Regions from separate parts of the Homo sapiens genome. Here region 1 is linked to region 2. The links come from fine-mapping of genetic effects on gene expression. A gene starts in region 2. The other region holds a variant in brackets. All regions are shown on one strand. Distances are between the middles of the regions.

Region 1 (11,352 bases), 100 kb before region 2:
ATGGCTGAGATCAGATGCTGTTGCTGAGGGTAAGACGATGGCTGAGATCAGATGCTCTTGCTGAGTGGTAAGACGATGGCTGAGAACTGATTGTTGAATTTGGCAATGTGGAGGACATTGGAGACCTTTACAAGAGCAGTTTCGGTATGGTAGGGGAGGTAACAAGCTGGGAGGAGTGGCTCAAGACAGAATAGGAACATCAATCTCTTCAAAAATTCTTCCAAAAAATAGAAAAGGGGAGAACACTTCCCAACTCATTCTGTGAGGCCAGTATTACCATGAAAAGTGTTACTTGGGGCCGGGCACGGTGGCTCACACCTGTAATCCCAGCATCTTGGGAGGCCGAGGCAGGTGGATCACGAGGTCAGGAGATGGAGACCATCCTGGCTAACACAGTGAAACGCTGTCTCTACTAAAAATACGAAAAATTAGCCGGGTGTGGTGGCAGGCGCCTGTAGTCCCAGCTACTCAGGAGGCTGAGGCAGGAGAATGGTGTGAACCAGGGAGGTGGAGCTTGCAGTGAGCCAAGATCACGCCACTGCACTCCAGCCTGGGAGATAGAGTGAGACTCCATCTCAGAAAAAAAAAGAAAAGTGTTACTTGGATAACAAAACTAGACAGAGACATCACAAGAAAACTACACCGGCCGGGCGCGGTGGCTCACGCCTGTAATCCCAGCACTTTGGGAGGCCGAGGCGGGCGGATCACGAGGTCAGGAGATCGAGACCATCCTGGCTAACACGGTGAAACCCCGTCTCTACTAAAAATACAAAAAATTAGCCGGGCGCAGTGGCGGGCGCCTGTAGTCCCAGCTACTTGGGAGGCTGAGGCAGGAGAATGGCGTGAACCCGGAAGGCGGAGCTTGCAGTGAGCGGAGATCGCGCCACAGCACTCCCGCCTGGGCGACAGAACGAGACTCCGTCTCAAAAAAAAAAAAAAAAAAAAAAAGAAAACTACACAATGATACACCTTATGCTATAGATGCAAACATCCTCAACAAAATACAAGCAAACTGAATCTAACAATATATAAAAAGGAGTATATACCATGACCAAATGGGATTTTCCCAGAAATGCAAGATTGGTTCATCATACAAAAATCAATGTAATACACACACTGTATGAATGGAATAAAGGACAAAAAACAAATGATCATTTCAGTAAATGAAAAAAAGCACTTGATAAAATCCAATGTTGCTTCATTATAAATAAAACACTCAACAAACTAGGAAGAGAATTGGTTTAATCTGATAAAAGACATCTATGAAAGACCCACAGCTCAGCCTGGGCAACATGGTGAAACCCTGTCTACTAAAAAATACAAACATTAGCCGGAGGCTGCGTGCGGTGGCTCACCCCTATAATCCCAGCACTTTGGGAGGCCGAGGCGGGCGGATCGCTTGAGGTCAGGAGTTCAAGACCAGCCTGGCCAACATAGCAAAACCCTGTCTCTACTAAAAATACAAAAATTAGCTGGGCATGGTGGCACGTGCCTGTAATCCCAGCTATTTGGGAGGCTGAGACAAGAGAATTGCTTGAACCCGGGAGGGGGAGGTTGCAGTGAGCCGAGATTGCACCACTGTACTGTAGCCTGGATGACACAGCAAGACTTCGTCTCCGAAAAGAAAAAAAAAAAAAAAAACAGAATTAGCCGGGCGTGGTGGTGTGTGCCTGTGATCCCAGACACTTGGGGGCTGGGAGGCTTGCTTGAGCCCAGGAGGAGGAGGTTGCAGTAAACGAAGATCACACCACTGCACTCCAGGCTGGATGACAGAGCAAGACCCTGTCTCAAAAAAAAAAGAGAGAGAGAGAAAAGCCACAGCTAACCGACAACTTACTACTGAAAAGGCTGAATGTTTTCCCCCTAAGATCAAGAACAGAACAAGGATGTCTGCTCTTGTCGTTTGTACTTAACATTGTACTGGGGGGTCTAGGCCGGGCAATTAAAAAAGAAAAATAAATAAAAGACATATACTTTGGAAAGGAAGGAATAAATCTATCTCTAATTGCAGATGACATGATCTTATGTATAGAAAATCCGAGGCCTGGTGTGGTGGCTCACGCCTAATCCCAGCACTTTGGGAGACCAAGGAGGGAGGATCGCTTGAGCCCAGGAGTTGGAGATCAGCCTGGGCAACATGGCAAGACTGTGTTTCCGCCAAAAAAAAAAAAACAAAAAAAAAAAAAAAAAAGGAAAAGAAAGAAAGACTAGCCGGGCACAGTGGTTCACACCTGTAATCCTGGCACTTTGGGAGGCTGAGGCGGGCTGATCACCTGAGGTCGGGAGTTCAAGACCAGCCTGACCAACATGGAGAAACCCTGTCTCTACTAAAAATACAAAAAAACTTAGCCAGGCATGGTGGCACATGCCTGTAATCCCAGCTACTTGGGAGGCTGAGGCAGGAGAATCGCTTGAACCTGGGAGGTGGAGGTTGCGATGAGCCGAGATTGCACCATTGCACTCCAGCCTGGGTAACAAGAGCAAAACTGCAAAAAAGAAAGAAAGAAAGAAAGAATAAAAAAGCTGGGTGTGGTGGCCTGTGCCTGTGGTCCCAGTTACTGGGGAGGCTGAACTGGAAGGATCGTGTGAGCCTGGGAGGCAGAGGTTGCAGTGAGCCGAGATCATGCCACTGTACTGCAGCCTGGGCAACAGAGTGAAACCCTGTCATAAAAAAAGAAAAGAAAATTGAAAACATATGCCCATACAAAAACTTGTATATGAATGTTTGTAGCAGCATTATTGATAATAATGAAAAGGCGGAAACAACCCAAAATATCCATAATTTTTTTTTTTTTGAGACAGAGTCTTGTTCTGTTGCCCAGGTGATCTCGGCTCACTGCAACCTCCACCTCCTGGGTCCAAGTGATTCTCATGCCTCAGCTTCCCCAGTAGCTAGAATCACAAGCATGCACCACCACACCTGGCTAATTTTGTATTTTTAGTAGAGACAGGGTTTTGCCATGTTGGCCAGGCTGGTCTCGAACTCCAGCCCCAAGTGATCCGCCTGCCTTGGCCTCCCAAAGTGCTGGGATTACAGGCGTGAGTCACCGTGCGGCCCAAATATCCATAAATTGATGAACGATAAACAAAATGTGATATTTCCATACAATGAAACATTACTCATCCATGAAAAGGAATGGAATGCTGATACATGCTGATACAAGGTTCATACAGATGAACCTTGAAAACGTTATGCAATCTGAAAGGAGCTAGTCACAAAGATCCACATATTGTATGATTCCATTGATATAAAATATTTAGAAGAGGCAAATCCGTAGAGACAGAAAGTAGATTAGTGATTACCAGGGGTTCGGAGAAAGGAGGATTGGGGAGTGACTGCTAATGGGTACAGAGTTTCTTTCGGGAGTGATGAAATGAGATAGTGGTGACGGTTGCACAAGTTTGTGACTGTACTAAAAACCACTGAATTGTACATGCTAAAAAGGTGAATTTTATGGAGTGTGAGCTATATCTCAGGTTCTGAAAAGAGACAGAATAGGAGACACTGAGGAAACTCTTTCAAGCAAGCTATAAAGGGAACAGAGAAATGCGGACGAAGAGATTTTTTTTTTCAGATGGGAGAAGTAATGTTTGTTTGTTTGTTTGTTAATAAATCCAGAGGAACACAAATCAAAGATCCAAGAAAGGCAGGGGGAATTGCTGGAGGATGCAGACGACAGAGGCCAGACTCTAATGCGTAAGTGAAGGAGCTGCCTGTGGACAGTTTCTCTGTAGTCACAGAAGGGAAAATATAGCAGATATGTGCAAGTCCAGGTAGGTGGGCATGCACGGGATGAGAACTGGACGAGATTCTCTTCCAAGTGCTCTCCTTCAGAGAGCTTGGTCTGTTTTCCTTCAACATCTTGCTTATAGCCTCCTGTCTCAAAACATGCCTGCCAAGAAAGTACACTTGCTTCCAAGAAAACAAGCAAGAAAGCAAGCAAACCAATCCCCTAAAATCATCTACCCTGATAGTTTTATTCTTTTCTTTTCCTCAAGACAGGGTCTTGCTCTGTCACCCAGGCACAATCATAGCTCACTGCTGGCCCCAATAGCTTTAAAAAGTGAATTCCAACCAGGTGCACAATGGCTTATGCCTGTAATCCCAGCACTTTGGGAGGCTGAGGCAGGAGGACTGCTTTAACTCAGGAATTTGAGCCTGGGCAATCTAGCAAGACCTCACCTCTTCTAAAAATTTTTTAAAATTCGTCAGGTGTGGTGGCATGTGCCTGTAGTCCCAGCTTCTTGGGAGGCTGAGGTGGGAGGAGTGCTTGAGCCTGAGAGGGCGAGGCTGCAGTGAACTATGATCGTGTCACTGTACTCCCTGCTGGGCAAGAGTGAAACCCCACCTCAAAAAAAAAAAAATTCCATCTCAAACTGGTCATTCTAAGTTCTTTCAACAATGTTATTTATTTCTATGTTATTTTAATCTATTTTTGAAATTAAATTTTATTATCAAAGAGTAATACTTGCTCAAATAAAATCCAAAAGGTACAGAAAACAAATCTCTCTCCCACCTGTCCCCAGCCCTCCTCCTTGAGGCCAGTTTATTGTATGTCCTCTGAGAGGTAGTCTATGCATAACTGCATATTTATCCCTCCTCCCTTTTTTATTAATTAATTAATTAATTTATTTATTTTTGAGACAGAGTCTCGCTCTGTTGCCCAGGCCGGAGTGCAGTGTTGCGATCTTGGCTCACCGCAAGCTCCACCTCCCGGGTTCAGGCCATTCTCCTGCCTCAGCCTCCCAAGTAGCTGGGACTACAGGTGCCCGCCACCACATCTGGCTAATTTTTTGTGTTTCTTTAGTAGAGACGGGGTTTCACTGTGTGAGTCAGGATGGTCTCAATCTCCTGACCTTGTGATCCACCCGCCTTGGCCTCCCAAAGTGCTGGGATTACAGGCGTGAGCCACCGCGCCTGGCTCCCTCCTCCCTTTTTAAAACTGCAAATAGTATCCAGACTTACCTAGCGTTCTGCATCATGCTGTTGTCACTGAAGATACATCTTGGAGATTGCTTCATATCAGTACATACAGCACTGACACATTAGTTTTCATAACTGCCATGACATCATAGTCCTAAAACATGTTCACAGAGTCCTTGATACTTCTCCTTTCAAGAGGTGGCTCGATTCCCCTCCCCAAACATGTGTGCTGGACTTAGTGACATGCTTCTATAGAACAGAATATGGCAGAAGCAATGATGTGTGCCCTCTGAGACTAGGTCAAACAAGACAGTGCAGCTTCCTCCTGTTTTCTATGTCTTGGGTCACTTGCTCCAGGGTCAGCCAACTGCCATGTCATTCAAGCAGCGCTGTGAAGAGAGGCCCATGTGGTGAGGAGCTGAGGCCTCCTGCCAATGGCTAATGTGCTATCTTGGAAAGGGATCTCCCAGCCCCAGTCAAGCCTTCAGGTGACTGCAGCCCTGGTTGACAGTCTGAATACAATCTAATTAGTGACCTGGAGCCAGAATCACCCAGCTAAATTGCTCCCAAATTCCTGACCCACAGAGACTGTGAGATAACATGTTTATTTTAAGCTGCCAAGTTTTGGAATAATTTGTCATGCAGCTATATATATGATATATGATATATATGATATATGATATATCATATATCATATATGATATATCATATATTATATATTATATATATAATTTTTATATAATATATATCATAATATTATATATATTATATATATAAAATATATTTTTTTGAGATAGGGTCTTGCTGTGTCA[C/T]TCAGGCTAGAGAGCAGTGGCACAATCTCAACTCACTGCAACCTCTGCTTCCTCAGCTCATGAGATCCTCTCACCTCAGCCCCCTGAGTAGCTGGGACTACAGGCGTGCAGTCCCATACCCGGCTAATTTTTTAACTTTTTGTAGAGATGGATAGAGACCATGTTGCTCAGGCTGGTCTCGAACTCCTGGGCTCAAGTGATCCACCCGCTTTGGCCTCCCAAAGTGCTGGGATTCCAGGTGTGAGCCACCACACCCCGCCAGCAATAGATAATTAAGATGCATGTTTAAGATAAATGTGTCCTATCTCCTCCATCATCCCATTTCAATAGGAAAAGCCCTTGGCCAGCCATAAAGCGTGTCATGAACATGAGGTACAACGCTTCCTATCCCATTTTCTCTCCCCAGCTTTCTGATGGCAACCAGCGCATACCTCTGAGTTTGTTCAAACCTGTTGCTCTCCAGTAACACAGTGTGGTCTGTGGGTCTTTGAGCCAAGTCTGTGCTGGCCCATCTCATATGCTCCCAGTTGATGACTTCCCCCAGAGATGTTGGTGTTTTCATCAGTACTTCCACCAGCAATTCTCTGGGTCGGTGTCAGAACCATGTAATAATAAGTTTTTGAAATGTTCAGGAAGTGAAGTCAGCTAAGAAACAAATTTGGCTTTATGAGCCCTTTCCCATCTCCACTGATCTGGGCAGGCCTCCCTGCAGTGTGGAGAGGACCTGTCAACTATATCCTGAGAATAAAGATTTCTTTTTTTAAAAAAAAATCTCATCTTTTCCCTGGAGTGGAAAGGCAGCTAATAGCATTCAGATATTTTGAGATGAAACTGTTACCATGGGAATGTTTCCATATCTCTCCCTTAATAATGATGGGTAGAAACAATGAACAGTACAGCTCTTAGAATTCTAGAGATAAAGGAAATAAGGGGGGAAAAATGAGAGCTGGAAAAACAGATCCCCCTAAAGGACTGCTTATCTCACTCAGAACTCTGCTCTGGTGCTCTCTAGGTGAATGTGGGGAGTTTGTAGGTCAGCGGTTTTTCTCCAAGGGTCAGGGTTCCCATATAGGAAGGAGATCAGTGATCCTGAGGTGGGTGGGGTGTGATTCTTCAGTAATTGCTGGTAAGGGGGTGAAGCTGGTCTGTCCTTCTGAGGCTCTGTGTGCAGGGTAGGGAGTGGAGGAGGAAAACTGAAGAGCTAACAAATTCAGATGCTTCTAAATACTTCTCCGTCTTTGTCCTGGCAAGAGGTCAAAGCACTTGAGGAACTCCTCCTCCCTAGGGCCTCAGACTGTACCCTGAAAGTAGAAGCATGCTGGCACACATTTTCATCTTGTAGTTCCAGAATTTCCTGTGCTGGACTGTCCTCTACAAGGGCTCAGGGATAATTTCTTAACCAGGAAGGCATCTCCTCCTCCATCCACTGTTTGAAGCACTGTAGGGGTCCCCTCAGGTCATTGTCAGCTGAGCTCCTGTTTCTCTAGGGCTTTGAGAAATCAAAGGACAAATGACTTGTTAATGAGCAAAATAATTTATCTCCTGTGACAGGCATTTTACCTTGTCTGCCATAGCCTCATACTCTCTCTCGGAAGGATTTATTTGCCTTTGTTGTTTTTACTTTTTGAGAAGGGTCATCCAAATAGAGCCATCCTGCCTATAAAATGAATGGGAATCCAACCCATTAGCTGAGAATTTAAGAACTCGTGTTGAATGTGTCAGGATAGGCAGATTGGGTATCCCCTTATTGTAAGCACCCCTTAAATCTCTCAAAGATGAAAGAAATGGATACCATCCCACCAAGCACCCCTGCACACTGTGAACTCACCTAAGGTGAGAACTGCCTGCTCACCGAAATCTTTATCTGTCAATTCCCCGCCTCCACCCCTGACCTAAGTTTGCTTGGAATGTCAGCATCTAGGGATTTCTTTTTGTTCTTGAGATCTTTAGTTAAAATACAACATAAGCAGCACTTGAACTGTTTCTTGGTGGTAGCAGCTGAAAGCTAATCTTTATAGGAATGTAGCTTAAGGAGCAGAAACCGTATTGGGTTGGGTGAACAACTAGAGAACTAAGTGTCTTCTTTCTCTGAAGCATCTACTGAAGCAATACATATGGTTGTCCCTGTCTCTCACACCCTCCGGAACCCGCATTTTCTGTTCTAAAATTTGTGATCCACAAAGAGAAAAGCAGTTTAAACATTTGATCTAGCATAAATATAAGCTCAGCAGAGGGAGCGCGGCAAGAGGTTCTAAACATAGGTGGCTCCACAGCACAGAGAAACCAGCCAGGAGACACCCAGGCAAGCGTCCTTGGCTGACTTCCCAGGTCCCTTGGCTTTGGGCTTTCCATGGTCCTGACCACATAAGGAAGGCTCTCTCTGCCAGTGACAGGCATCTCCCAATTCTTTCTCGCTGACTGCTGCGCTAGTAGGTCCTCTTCATTTGGGCTTGGGAGGTCATTTTTGGCAAACAGTAACTCTCACTCCCAAAACGTGGATCCTAAAATGTGGAAGAATCCTGATGACAATGTAAGATGCTACAGCTGCACCTGGCTGGTGGCAGAGTTATAATCTGGTACATGTTTCAGCTGCCACTTACACATAACAGGTGAGCACAGCGTTCATGCTGCTTGAAATGAACACCTATTCTGTTCCAAGCACATTATTACACAGCATATTTTTTCAAATTCAGCTGTACTTTGACAGTTTTTATAGAAAGTATGTGTCTCAATTTTTACATACCAAACTGGAGGAAATTTATCCAGTGAAGTGATTACTGATCTCCAGCCCCAGAAGCGTGAGGCACACAGGTACCTGAATTCTTTCAGGCCAAATGAAACTAACTAAATATTCTTTATGTATGAATTGTTATGGGGCAAGGTGAACACCACCTCCTCCATAAAAGCTTTCTGGGAGCTCCTCAACAGCAGAAAATCTCCCCTCTGCTTGAATTCCCATTGCATTTGTTTTTTTTTTTTTTTTTTTTTGAGATGGAGTCTCGCTCTTTCGCCCAGGCTGTAGAGCAATGGCGCGATCTCGACTCACTGCAACCTCCACCTCCCAGGTTCAAGCGATTCTCCTGCCTCCTCAGCCTCCCGAGTAGCTGGGATTACAGGCATCTGCCATCATGCCCGGCTAATTTTTGTATTTTTGTCGAGATGGGGTTTCACCATGTTGGCCAGGCTGGTCTTGAACTCCAGACCTCAGGTGATCCACCTGCCTCGGCCTCCAAAGGTGCAGGGATTACAGGCGTGAGCCACCGCGCCTGGCCTGCACTTGATTTTATCTCTTATAGGTCTTATTTTTCTACCTATAGTAGATGCTTATTTACATATTACCTCTCCCTATTGTATTGGAAGATCTTTGAATCAGGCATCTCCCCCATAACTATTTCATCTCTATTTCTCACCACATACAGCCCAGCACTTTATACAAAGGAGGCTCCAAGTACATGTTTCTGAAGGAAAGAATGACCAAGCAGAACAGAATCCCTTGTGATAAACTAAGTGTAGCAGTAGAAGAGAGATCACTGAGCCCTGGCCAAGAGGCCTAGTTGACCAGACGACTTGAAGAAAGGCTCAGACCCCAAGTCTGAGGCCTGTGACCCCTGGCTCTGAATTGTGCAAGTCCCTGACATTGTGTCATTGATTTTGTGGACGCACTTCCCCACAGCTCAGTTGTTGGAGCCAGCTCTGCAGGAAATATTTTGGTTGTCCTTTAGCTTTATTTCCTCACTCAGTCCAATAAGCTGCACTGACTTTCATAGAGTTTTAAGGCAAATGGCTTAAAGTTCATTTATTTGTCCATTTACTCATTGATTCAAAACATATTTACTGAGCATCGACTATGTACCAAGTATTGTTCTAGGCCCTGAATATAAAGTGGTGATTAAGACAGTCATAGACCTACTCTTTTTTTTATTTTCATTTTTTATTTTTTGAGATGGAGTTTTGCTCTTATTGCCCAGGCCAGAGCGCAACGGCACGATCTCGGCTCACCATAACCTCCGCCTCCAGGTTCAAGCAATTCTCCTGCCTCAGCCTCCCGAGTAGCTGGGATTACAGGCATGCACCACCATGCCTGGCTAATTTTGTATTTTTATTAGAGACGGGGTTTCTCCATGTTGGTCAGGCTTGTCTCGAACTCCTGACCTTAGGTGATCCACCCACCTCAGCCTCCCAAAGTGCTGGGATTACAGGCGTGAGCCACCACGCCCGGCCCAAAGCCCTACTCTTATAAAGCCTACATTGAAGCAGGAGGGAGACCCTCAACAAATGAAGGAGCACACATGGAAAAGGAAGGAAGGGAGGGAGAGAGGGAACGAGAGAAGGAGGGAGGGAGGATGGAAGGGAGGGAGGGAGGAAGGAAGGGAGTAAGGGAGGGAGAGAGGATGGGAGGGAGGGAGGGAGAGGGAAAGAGAGAGGGAGGGAGGGAGAGAGGGAACGAGAGAGGGAGGGAGGATGGAAGGGAGGGAGGGAGGGAATGAGAGAGGGAGGGAGGGAGGATGGAAGGGAGGTAACGAGATAGGATGAAAGGGAGGGAGGGAGGGAGGATGGCTGGTGGTGAGATGCTGACAATCAAGGTGATGTCAGATAGAGTTTTTGTTTGTTTGTTTTGAGACAGAGTCTCGCTTTGTCGCCCAGGCTGGAGTAGGTGGTGTGATCTCAGCTCACTGCAACCTCTGCCGCCTGGGTTCAAGTGATTCTCCTGCTTCAGCCTCCCGAGTGGCTGGGATTACAGGCACCCGCCACCATGCCCAGCTAATTTTTGTATTTTTAGTAGAGACAGGGTTTCACCATGTTGGTCAGGCTGGTCTCGAACTCCTGGCCTCAAGTGATCCACCTACCTCAGCCTCCCAAAGTGCTGGGATTACAGGTGTGAACCACCACACTCGACTGTCACATTGAGTTTCCAGATGGTTTCTTTACACAATCTGGAAAGGCTCCACTTTGAGGAGGTAACATTTAAACTGAGATTAAGTGACAAGCATGAGGCAGCTTTTTAAAAAAAGAGGGAAGAGTGTTTCAAGCAGAGAATAGCCAGTGCAAAGGCTCTGAAGGAAGCAGGCAATAGGTCTGGAAACAGTGAGTTCAGAGAAGCAGGCAAGGAACAGCGCAGTCCGGTTTTAAAAAGCAGGACAAGGGCAAGGCGTGGTGGCTCACACCTGCAATCCCAGCACTTTGGGAGGCCGAGGCGGGCAGATCACAAGGTCAGGAGATCGAGACCATTCTGGCTAATGTGGTGAAACCCCGTCTCTACTAAAAATACAAAAAATTAGCCGGGCATGGTGGTGGGCACCTGTAGTCCTAGCTACTCGGGAGGCTGAGGCAGGAGAATGGCGTGAACCTGGGAGGTGGAGCTTGCAGTGAGCCGAGATCGCACTACTGCACTCCAGCCTGGGCGACAGAGCGAGACTCCGTCTCAAAAATAAATAAATAAATAAATAAAATAACAAATAAAAAAGCAGGACAAGGAAACTGGGTTTTATTTAAGTGTGACAGGAAGATAATGAAAGAATTTAAGTGTAGGGGTGGCAAGATGGCTGCTTAAAGAGAATGGATTTTGGAAGGAAAAGAAGAAACTGGGAAACTGCTGCAGCCATTAGGAGGTTATCC
Region 2 (11,285 bases):
TCAGGAGGCCAAGGTGGGTGGATCATTTGAGGTCAGGAGTTCAAAACCAGCCTGGCCAACATGGTGAAACCCTGTCTCTACTAAAAATACAAAAATTAGCCAGGCGTGGTGGTATGCGCCTGTAATCCCAGTTACTTGGGAGGCTGAGGCAGGAGAATCGCTTGAACCTGAGAGGCTGATGCTGTAACGAGCCGAGATTGTGCCACTGCACTGCAGCCTGGGTGACAGGGTGAGACTCTGCCTCAAAAAAATAAAAAAAGAGCAGGCCAGGCATGGTGGTTCACACCTATAATCCCAGTATTTGGGAGGCCGAGGTGGGTGGATCACTTGAGGTCAGCAGTTCCAGACCAGCCTGGCCAACACAGTGAAACCCTCTCTACTAAAAAAAAAAAAAAAAAAAAAAAAAATTTACAAAAATTAGCCAGACATGGTGGTGCATGCCTGTCATCCCAGCTACTTGGGAGGCTGAGGTTACAGTGAGCCAAGATGGCACCACTGTACTCCAGCCTGGGCGACAGAGCAAGACCCTGTCTCAAAAAAATAATAATAGGCCGGGCGCGGTGGCTCACTCCTGTAATCCCAGCACTTTGGGAGGCCGAGGAAGGCAGATCATGAAGTCAGGAGATCGAGACCATCCTGCCTAACATGGTGAAACCCCATCTCTACTAAAAATACAAAAAAAAAAAAAAAAAAATTAGCCGGGCGTGGTGGTGGGCACCTGTAGTCCCAGCTACTCGGGAGACTGAGGCAGGAGACTGGCCTGAACCTGGGAGGTGGAGCTTGCAGTGAGCCGAGATCGCGCCACTGCACTCCAGCCTGGGCGACAAAGCGAGACTCCATCTCAAAAAAAATAAAATAAAAATAATAATAATAATAATACAGAAAAATGATCAAATTTTTATGACAAAGAGGAGTGGTTTGGAAAACAAGGAAAGTCTAAACAAACTGAACTAGCTTGAACTCATTCATTCTTTTAAGAAATACCTGAGTGCCTCTTTTGTGCCAGGTCTGTTCTAGCCACTGGGGATACAGCAAGAAGGAAGACAAATCCCCTGCCTTCATGATGATTCTTTTCTAGCCCAAGAGACAGGACAAAAAATGTACAAATATACATGGTTATGGGGATAATGCCCAGGTCAGAGCCTTCTTATAGAGAGAGCAATGAAGGAGAGAGTAGCATAAAAGGGAAGTAAGGGCTAGATTGTGGAGGGCCTTACAGGACTGCATTAAAAAGTTTGGACTTTATTCTAAGTGAAAGTAGAAATCACTGGATGATATACATCTATTTTCTGAGACAGATTCTCACCCTGTCAACCAGGCTGGAGTGCAGGGGTGCAGTCATGACCCACAGCAGCCCCGAACTCCTGGGCTCAGGTGATTCTCCCACCTCAGCCTCTCAAGTAGCTGGAACTGCAGGTGCACGCCACTTCACCCAGCTAATTTTTTGTATTTTTTGTAGAGATGAGGGTTCGTCATGTTGCCCAGGCTGGTCTCGAACTCCTGACCTCAAGTGATCCACCTGCCTCGGCCTCCCAAAGTGCTGAGATAATAGGCATGAGCCACCACACCTGGCTCATTAGATGATTTTTAAGGTGCATAGCAGAATCTGAGATATTTTCTAAATATGAATCTGTATATATTCAGGACAGCTTGAATCTATACTTCAGGGTAAAAAAATTAAAAATAAAAAAATAAAAATGAATCTGCCTGCTCCACGGAAAATGGAGGAAAGCAGGAGCAGAAAGACTGGTTAAGGGAGATATTGCAAAAGTCAAGGCCAAAGCCAGTGGAATTTTGAAGTAGTTTGGCAGAGGTTGCCATGATAATCAGAGTTAGACAAACCAGTTAAAGATCTGCCAGATTCATTTTAAAAGAAGATAACAGTTCCATTTTCTTAAGGAACTTAACTAGTAGAAAACAAATATATCTCAATTTAATTTAAAAAGAAGACTCCATTAAAATGAAAACTATCCTGTTTACTATTATCAATATATATATATATTTTTTGAGACAGAGTCTCACTCTGTCCCCCAGGTTGGAATGCAGTGGTGTGATCTCAGCTCACTGCGACCTCCATCTCCTGGGTGAAAGCCATTCTCCTGCCTTAGCCTCCTGAGTAGCTGGGATTACAGGTGCGTGCTGCCACAGCTGACTAATTATTGTATTGTTAGTAGAGACTGGGTTTCGTCATGTTGGTCAGTTTCCTGGTCTCAAACTCCTGACCTCAGGTGATCTGCCCACTTTGGCCTCCCAAAGTGTTGGGGTTACAGGCATGAGCTACTGTGCCCAGCCATTAAAAATTAATTTTTTCTTTAAGAGACAGTCTTGCTCTGTCACCTGGGCTGAAGTGCAGTGGTGTGATCATGGCTCACTGCAACCTCGATTTTCTGGGTTCAAGCAATTCTCTCATCTCAGCCTCCCCAGTAGCTAGGACTACAGGTGCACACCACCATGCCTAGCTAATAGTGTTGTGGTTTTTTTTTTTTGAGGCGGGGTCTCACTATGTTGCCCAGGCTGGTCTCAAACTCCTGCGTTCAAGCAATCCTCCTGCCTCAGCCTCCCAAAGTGCTGGGATTACAGGAGTGAGCCACTGTGCCCAGCCATTAATATTTAAATTTTTTGTAGAGACAGGATCTCACTACATTGCCCAGGTTGGTCTCAAACTCCTTGGCCTCAAGTGATCCTCCTGCCTCAGCCTCCCAGAGTGCTTGGAATACAGGTATAAGCCACCTCACCCAGCTGTGTGGGAGCATTATTAAAGGTTTTTTTTCAGACAGAGTCTTGCTCTGCTGCCCAGGCTGGCATGTCTCAGCTCACTGCAACCTCCTCCTCCAGGGTTCAAGTGATTCTCCTGCTTCAGCCTCCAGAGTAGCTGGGACTACAGGTGTGTGCCACCACACCCGGCTAATTTTCGTATTTTTAGTAGAGACGGGGTTTCACCATGTTGGCCAGGCTCGTCTCGAACTCCTGACCTCAAGTGATCTGCCTGCCTTGGCCTCCCAAAGTGCTGGGATTACAGGCATGAGCCACAGTGCCTGTAATCCCAGGCACTGCACTCCAGCCTCGGTGACAGAGCGAGACTCTGTCTCAAAACAACAACAACAACAAACTATTTCATCATATATTTAAGGATCAGTTTTTTAAGCAAGTCGTCTACTCACTTTCCCTACCTTGCTCCAAAAGCATAAGCATGAATTATATGTTAAATAACACCTTCCTGAACCTTGTCAAGGAAGTCCATGAAAAATACAGATTAAGATATAGTTATAAATAAAAATAAAAATTTACAACTGCAAATCAAAAAGTAAACTATGGCTGGCTAAGCTTACTCCTAAATTCTAATTCTAAAGGAAGATTTCTCCAAACAGCAGGTGGATGAAATTTCAATGAACTCAAAGAACACTACAGAAGAGGGTAAAAACGTGTTAACTTTCTTCCTTGGGATTCCATCACGGTGACCCTGAGGGGTTACCAAGAATGAAATAATGGTTTAAAACAGAATGCTTCGAAACAGCAATGGCAGACTATTAACGAATGTATTAACTCTTTAAAACAAACAATCCAGTTATCCCTGGCCCACTTTCTTATTTTAGTCCTAGCAACTGAGTTACATAACTTGCAGAGTGAAATCAAGAAGTCCCCGCTGTTGCGTCCTCATGTCAGTGAACAGAGGGAACTCTCCTTTATTATATTTTCAAAAGGTGAAATGTATGAAATTTCTGGGTGGGGGGAGATATCAAATGTCTGTGTGCCTGTGGTTATTAATAAGTTAACTACGAAGTAACTATGGAATAAATAATGCTTAAAAAGAGGGCAAAGATTACGCTTTAGGGTAACAACAATTGGACCCTCCCCAGATAATTCTAATTCATTGAGCGCTTGCATAACTCGAAGTTGAGTAAAAATTTTTGATGAAATATCTCGAGTACGAGGAGTTAGTCCAATGCAAAGTACAAGTACTGCTAAAAAGGATCCGGCCCTTTCCACTACTCATATCTTAATGTCAATACATAGAGAGAGTGAAGACTGCGAGTGCCAAAAAAATGCAGAAACCTGACCTTGCCCACAAGTCGAATAGTTCTGCACCCCTCCCCCAGCTTCCCCGGGAGCCGGTTCACGCAATCCCTATTGGTCAGTCTGCTTATTCCAGCACCTGCCTGGCAGTGATAAGGGAATCTCCAGAAGACAAGAAGGTCTGAAAGGAGGCGGCCTGGGAAACTGTGAGGCCCAGAAGGACAGGGTTCGAAGAGGAAAAGGAGGAGAGAAGCTTCGGAGGGATGAGGTCGGGCGGTTAGGGCTAATAGGGACATGGCTTGGGAGGACGGCTGGGGAACAGGGAAAGGAGATCTCTGGAGGGCCCAGGTGAGGTGACAGGGTGAGGGCCGCCGGCGGCCAGCCAAAAGAGAAGAGTGAAGGGGCTGGAAGGCCTAGGAACGCGGAGAAAGGCGAGCGGAGCTGTGAGGCGCGAGAAGGGCCGGGGCTGCAAAGGTTGGGGCTGCAGGGGCGACAGGGGCGACAGGGGCTGCAGGGGCAGGGAGGGCAGGGACTCAGGGGCCGGCCAGAGGGTGCGGACTCACGTTCTCCCACCAGCAGGATCCGCACGTCTTTCTTCATGTCGGCGGCTCTCGGGGGCCGGCCTCCGCCCGCACGCACGGAGTGGACTCCTCTCACCAGGAGCACCCACCCCACGGCGCCACCTGCCAGCCTCTTCGGCCGCCGGGGCCCGCCGCGCCGCCCCCTCAGTTGCTTCCCCGCAAGAGAGCCGGGACAGCGCCAGCTCCGCCTCCTCCGGCCCAGCGGGCTGTGGCGGCGGCGGCGGCGGCGGCGGCGGCGGCGGCGGCGGCGGCGGCGGCGGGGACGACGGCACGCGGCGAGGGACACGCGCTTTCGGAACGCGAACGCGCTCTGCGCCGGAACAGCGCTCCCGCTGTCAGGCCGCCGCAGCGCAGGCCCAGGGAGCCTCGCCCACCCTCCTTTGGGCACCGCGACCCCGGAGACACTTGGGCCAGGAATTTGAATGGCGGATTCCCTGGTTTAACCCCGTTTATTTTATAGATAGGGACAGAAATTCCCTGTTCAAAGTCACATAGCTAGAGCTTGGCAGTGACTCAGAGCAGGGATCTTCTCACCAGACCATAAACTCCGGGAGGGCAGCGATCAGCTTGCATGGTTTTCAGCTGCGTCCCCACGTTATTGGATAGGGCCGTCAGAAAATGCTTGATCGAGTAGGGCGACTGGCTCCCAGGATCCGGCGCTTTCCACTCCCCAAAGCCCGTCACCCTAGTTGCTTTTGCCTCTGATGCTTATAAAATACGATTATAAGATTCGTTTTTACGCTGTGTGAACAAGACTCCTTTCTTTATAACCAAACTAAGTGACTTTTTTTCTGTCTATGTAGTTTATTTTATGGCAGGGTTTTCGGACACTCTTCTTTACTCAGGCTTACCCAGCGTAATGCTAGACACGGAGGTGGCACTCGATAATAAACTCTAGATGATTTTTCTAACATTGCCTTAATTTTCTCGTGACCCTCTCCATCTGGAGGAATTTGTTGTTACATGCTTAATGTTTGGTACACAATGGCAAATATATATATATACATACGCGTGCGAATATATATCACATCCCTAATACTTGGCACACAGTGGGAAATATAAAATACATAAATTAATGAGGAAGCACTATCTGTGCATAATGTACATTTTTTCTATCTTAAATATTACACAATAAACACTTAAAGGGAATGAAATGTGCGTAATACCAACTTCCCTTTCTCCTAGGAGAAGTCATGTGGTCTCTTGCAGCAGTTAAGAGTTGCTGGCAAATTTCCTGGGTTTGAATCTAGGCTCCACATAATAGCTCTGTGATCTCGACTAAGTGCTTTTATTTTTACTTCCCTCAGCCACTGTTCCTTCTTCTGTAGCATGGAAATAATGATGATAATACCTTCCTCTTGAGATGGTTGTGAGTAATAAATACTATAATACTTGTCAAGCATTTGGTACAGTGCCAGACTCAGAGCGTGTGCTCTACTGATCTCAGCTATCATTATTATATTAAAAAGTCACTAAAAAGTTGTAATCCACAGATTTTTTGTTTTGTTTTGGTTTTGTTTTGAGACGGAGTCTCGCTCTGTCGCCCAGGCTGGAGTGCAGTGGCGCAATCTCGGCTCACTGCAAGCTCCGCCTCCTGGGTTCACGCCATTCTCCTGCCTCAGCCTCCCGAGTAGCTGGGACTACAGGCGTCCGCCACCACGCCCGGCTAATTTTTTTTTTTTTTTTTTTGTATTTTTAGTGGAGACGGGGTTTCACCGTGTTAGCCAGGATGGTCTCGATCTCCTGACGTCGTGATCCGCCTGCCTTGGCCTCCCAAAGTGCTGGGATTACAGGCGTGAGCCACCGCGCCCAGCCTAATCCACAGGTTTTGAGGCAAATATGTTGTTGTGTTTACTGCAGAATTTCACCATCTTAGTTATTTGATGTCCATAAGGAGCACAGGGGAGAAAGCCCTTTCAAAAACAACTCTATCCCTGTCCGTGTTAGGAAAAAGAGGGAGATGGGAAAGACATACTCCTTGTTCACTGAGAGATAATGAAGTCGCGTTCCTGGGTAGATGTAAATAAGGTGCTTTCATCTCCCTCCTCCCCCCACACCTCAATGAGTGGAAATGTGAAATTCAGGAGGCTTGGTTACCTGATCTTTCAGGGAAAAGTAGCCCTCAGAATTTTAGTGTTACAAAATGTTTGAGTTGGAAGAACCCTGACAGAGCTCCTATTCCAATCCCGTTACTCTGTAGATAAAAAAAAAAAAGCAAGGCCCACAGAGACGCAATGACCTGGCACAGACGGCATGGCTGAGGCTGAGCTTTGCTCTGCCATTCCTAGTGCATGACTCTAGGCAACTCATGTCACCTAGTTGTGCCTCAGTTTCCTCTCTACCAAGTGAAGGCTGTGATCTCTTATGAAATTGTTTGGAGGAGCTCATAAAATAATGTATTTTATGTGAATAATGTAATGAATTGTAAATCTTTTTCCTAAAAAACAAACAAACAAAAAACAAGTTACACAAATATCAGAGCACAGAGGACAAAAGCCTTTTACAGAGGGGCAAATTCTTTAGGGCACTGCTTGCACCATGCAGCTTTGTGAAGAATCTAGATCCCTAAGAGCTCTCAATCAGCGTTGCCAGTTAATGACAATGTTGACTCATTGGGGCTTCTCCAGGAGGGTGAGCAGTAACAAGGTCTTCGTGGGGTTGTAGATGTGTACTGGGTAATGTCTGGTAGGCAGGGGCTTGGAAAAAGCATTTATTTAGAGGGACATCACAGATACAATATTGCAAAGAACTCCTTTGTAAATAAAACTTACTTAAAAATCCATATCCAGCCAGGTATGGTGGTTCAACACCTATAATCCCAAAGCTTGGGGTAGCTGCGGTGGGAGGATCTCTTGAGGCCAGGAGTGCAAGACCAGCCTGAGAAACATTGAAACCCCATCTCTACAAAAAATAAACAAATTAGCTGGGCGTGGTGGCATGCACCTGTAGTCCCAGTTGGGAGGCTGAGGTGGGAGGATCACTGGAGACCAGGAGTTGGAGGCTGCAGTGAGCTATGATGGCACCATTGCACTCAAGTCTGGGTGACAGAGCCAGAGTCTGTCTCTAAATAAAAAAAAATAAAAATCTGACTAGGCCGGGCACAATAGCTCACACCTGTAATCCTAGCACCTTGGGAGGCCGAGGCGGGTGGATCACTTGAGCTCAGGAGTTTGAGACCAGCCTGGCCAACATGGTGAAACCCTGTCTCTACTAAAAATACAAAAGTTAGCTGGGCGTGGTGGTGCATGCCTGTAATCCCAGCTATTCGGGAGGCTGAGGCAGGAGAATCGCTTGAACCCAGGAGGTGGAGGTTGTAGTGAGCTGAGATCGCACCACTGCACTCGAGCCTGGGTGACAGAGTGAGACTCCATCTAAAAAAAAAAAACCTAACTCAAGAGCTGCAGAAAAGAGGCAATATCAAGCACTTTCAGTGAGCAATGGATATGGTTTGGTACAAACTGAGGCCAGCACTTGCTAAAGTTGGGGAGAGGGAGTCTGGTATGCCAGGGTTTGCCTCCCCTGCAATGTAAGTTTCTTTCTACAGTCCGCAGCCATCTCCTGATCATCTATACTTCTGCCAGTCTGGCTCCCTGACTTGCCTTGAACTTTATTCCCTCCTTATGATGTTAACAAACGTCCACTAGGTGTCACTCTGATGTTCTCCTGGAGACAGCACAGGTCGCTGGTTAAAGCAGGGAAGCTTGGCTGGGGATGAGAGGATTGCTTGAGCCCAGGAGTTCGAGACCTGCCTGAATAACACAAGGAGACCCTGTCTCTACAAAAAATTTTAAAGAATTAAGCCGCCGTGGCTCACGCCTGTAATCCCAACACTTTGGGAGGCCAAGGTGGGCAGATCACCTGAGGCCAGGAGTTTGAGACCAGCCTGGCCAACATGGCAAAATCCTGTCTTCACTAAAAATACAAAACTTAGCCGGGTGTGGTGGCAGGCGCCTGTAATCCCAGCTATTTGTGAGGCTGAAGCATGAGAATCTCTTGAACGCGGGAGGCGGAGGTTTCAGTGAGCCGAGATCGCATCACTGCACTCCAGCCTGGGGGATTAAGCGAGACTCTGTCTCCAAAAAAAAGAAAACAAAAAAAATTAAAGAATTAATTGGACGTGGTGGTGCACACCTGTAGTCCCAGCTACGTGGGAAGATTGCTTGAGCCTAGGAGGTTGAGGCTGCAGTGAGCTGTGATTGTACCACTGCACTCCAGTCTGGGCCACAGAGTAAGACCCCGTCTCTTAAACAACAACAACAACAAAGACTAAGGATGCTGGAGTCTGCCTGCTAGATCTGAACATCAGTTGTGCCAATTACTAGCTGTGCATCACTGGACAGATTATTTAACTTCTCTTTGCCTCATCTGCCAAATGGGAATAACAATAGGACATACCTCATGAGATTGTTATGAAAATTAAATTAGTTAATATAATAGGAAAGGCTGGGCACAGTGGCTCACGCCTGTAATCCCAGCACTTGGGAGGATGAGGTGGGTGGATCCCTGAGGTCAGGAGTTCGAGACCACCCTGACCAACATGGTGAAACCCTATCTCTACTAAAAATACAAAAATTAGCCAGGCATGGTGGTGGGCACCTGTAATCCCAGCTACTTGGGAGGCTGAGGCACGAGAATCACTTCAACCTGGGAGGTGGAGGTTGCAGTGAGCTGAGATCATGCCACTGCACTCCAGCCTGGGCAACACAGAAATACTCCATCTCAAAAAAAAAAAAAAAAAGATTCATTAGCCGGGCATAATGGCATGCACCTATAGTCCCAGCTACCTGGGAGGCTGAGGTGGGCGATCACTTGAGCCTAGGAGGTCAAAGCTGCAGTGAGCTGTGATTGTGCCACTACACTCCAGACTGGGTGACAGAGCAAGAACTTGTCTCAAAAAAAAATACATATATATGTATATATATATATTTTATGTATATACATATATTTTTATGTATATACATATACATATACGTGTATATGTATATACATGTATACATATATACACGTATACATGTATACGTGTATATATATATATATATATATATATATATATATATATATATATATTAGGAAAACACTTAGAATTGTGCCTGGCGTGTGGTCAGTGATATATAAATGTTGGAAGAGGGAGATAGGAAAGACACACTCCTTGTTCATTGGCAGATAATGAAGAAATATTCCAGGGAGGATGCGAATAAGGAGGTTTAGTCTCCCCCTTCCCACCCACACATCAAATAAAATAAATTATAAGGGAAGTGGCTTCTGTACACCTCTCTGAGCTTGAGGACAGAGCTTCATGATGACACATACTGCAGCAAATCATAAGCCAAAGAACAGAGTTGTTGGCAGTGAATTTACTGTTGGGATATTACAGATTGAATACAATGTATTAAATAGATTGGATAAGGCCAAGAGGACAGATTGGTATCTAGAAGGCACTGATGGAATTTTCCTCTAGAATGCCAGGAAGGAGCTCTACCCTCACAATACAGGCTTCATGCCTCCTCAACTGTGCAGGGGAGGAGGTCAGGGCAAAGTGCTTTCGCCAGGAGATAAGAGGATCCATCTTTATGCCTAGTGACACAGCCTCTCTCTGAGTTCCAGAACAGCAGAACACCCAGGGCAAATGGGCAGGCCTGCTGGGTAGAAGATAAAGTGTGTGTTAAATGACTGACATTGGGTGGGAACAGGGGCCCCATCTCTGATTGGTGAGTTAGACAGAGTCTCTCACCAATCTCTGATTGGTGAGTTAGACAGAGTCTCTCACCAATCTCTGATTGGTGAGTCCTGGGCAGGAAACCAAATAAGACTTGGCTTGGCATCAGTCCCATGCTTCAGACCCACCTATCTTTGGTCTTTCAAGTTAAACCCAAAGCAGCATCCATCATCTGTGTTTTCTTCACTTTTGTGTCCCATTCCTTCCAGGATGCCTTCCTCCTTTTCCTGCCAGGCCCACTCTGGTGGAGTGGAAAAGTCCAATGCTTTGATACCAGGTAAATGCTGTATTTTATCTTGCCTTTCAACACACTCGTTATTGGTTCATTGTTCAAACATCCATGTCTTTGGCATAGTCAGTCACAAGGGTCCATCTCTAGAGGACATGGATTCTGCCTGTTTGCTTGATTTCGCTTGAAGGTACATCACTCAGCACAATTACTTATTAAAAGGCATTTGATTATAACTGTCAGTGTTGAAAGTATATTTCCAGACAAGAGCTTCATCTGTTAATGAGGTTGCATCCAGTCTTCTTTTTAATTTTCTTGAGCTCCTTTCAGATAAATTGGAAAACAAATACCCTCAATTAAGACATAATTGATATTGAGAAGCCTACCTCCAAATGGCCTGAATGTCTATGGAGTGATTAAGAGCATGGGCTCTGGAGTCTACAGTTTATCTCCAACACTTTGCTAGCTGTGTAACACTGACTAGCAATGTTGGGCAAGTGACTGACCTTTCTGAAAAATATAAACCTCATCTGCAAAATGGAGCTATTTCATAGGACACTTCTGAGGATTAAATAAAATGATGCAGGTAAAGCATTTGTCACATTGCTTAAACATGCTCACATATCACCCTTAACAGCTACATTTTAAATTAGGAATTCTTTTGCTGACTTACATCATCTTCCCAAGGGCAAATTGATTAGCCTACCTACTGTGGGTGGCAAGCCACCCAGGTGCCGAGGCAAGA

The links. PIP is the estimated chance that this variant, and not a neighbour inherited with it, causes the effect.
Region 1: its variant is fine-mapped to the expression of RHOT1 in whole blood (INTERVAL, PIP above 0.99).

Annotation. Positions count from the first base shown.
Region 1 is chr17:32,237,668-32,249,019 of GRCh38, reverse strand. LOC124903979 (a long non-coding RNA gene) reads right to left here and starts at 5,536. Exons shown (of 2, transcript XR_007065709.1): 1 at 4,967-5,536. RefSeq lists a silencer at 7,936-8,230. The variant C/T (reference allele first, on the strand shown) is at 5,737.
Region 2 is chr17:32,136,022-32,147,306 of GRCh38, reverse strand. RHOT1 (ras homolog family member T1) reads right to left here and starts at 4,805. Exons shown (of 20, transcript NM_001033566.3): 1 at 4,578-4,805. The coding sequence starts at 4,614. LOC105371730 (a long non-coding RNA gene) reads left to right here and starts at 4,172. Exons shown (of 2, transcript NR_136413.1): 1 at 4,172-4,282; 2 at 4,594-6,081. RefSeq lists silencers at 4,525-4,584, 4,615-4,844 and an enhancer at 5,305-5,474.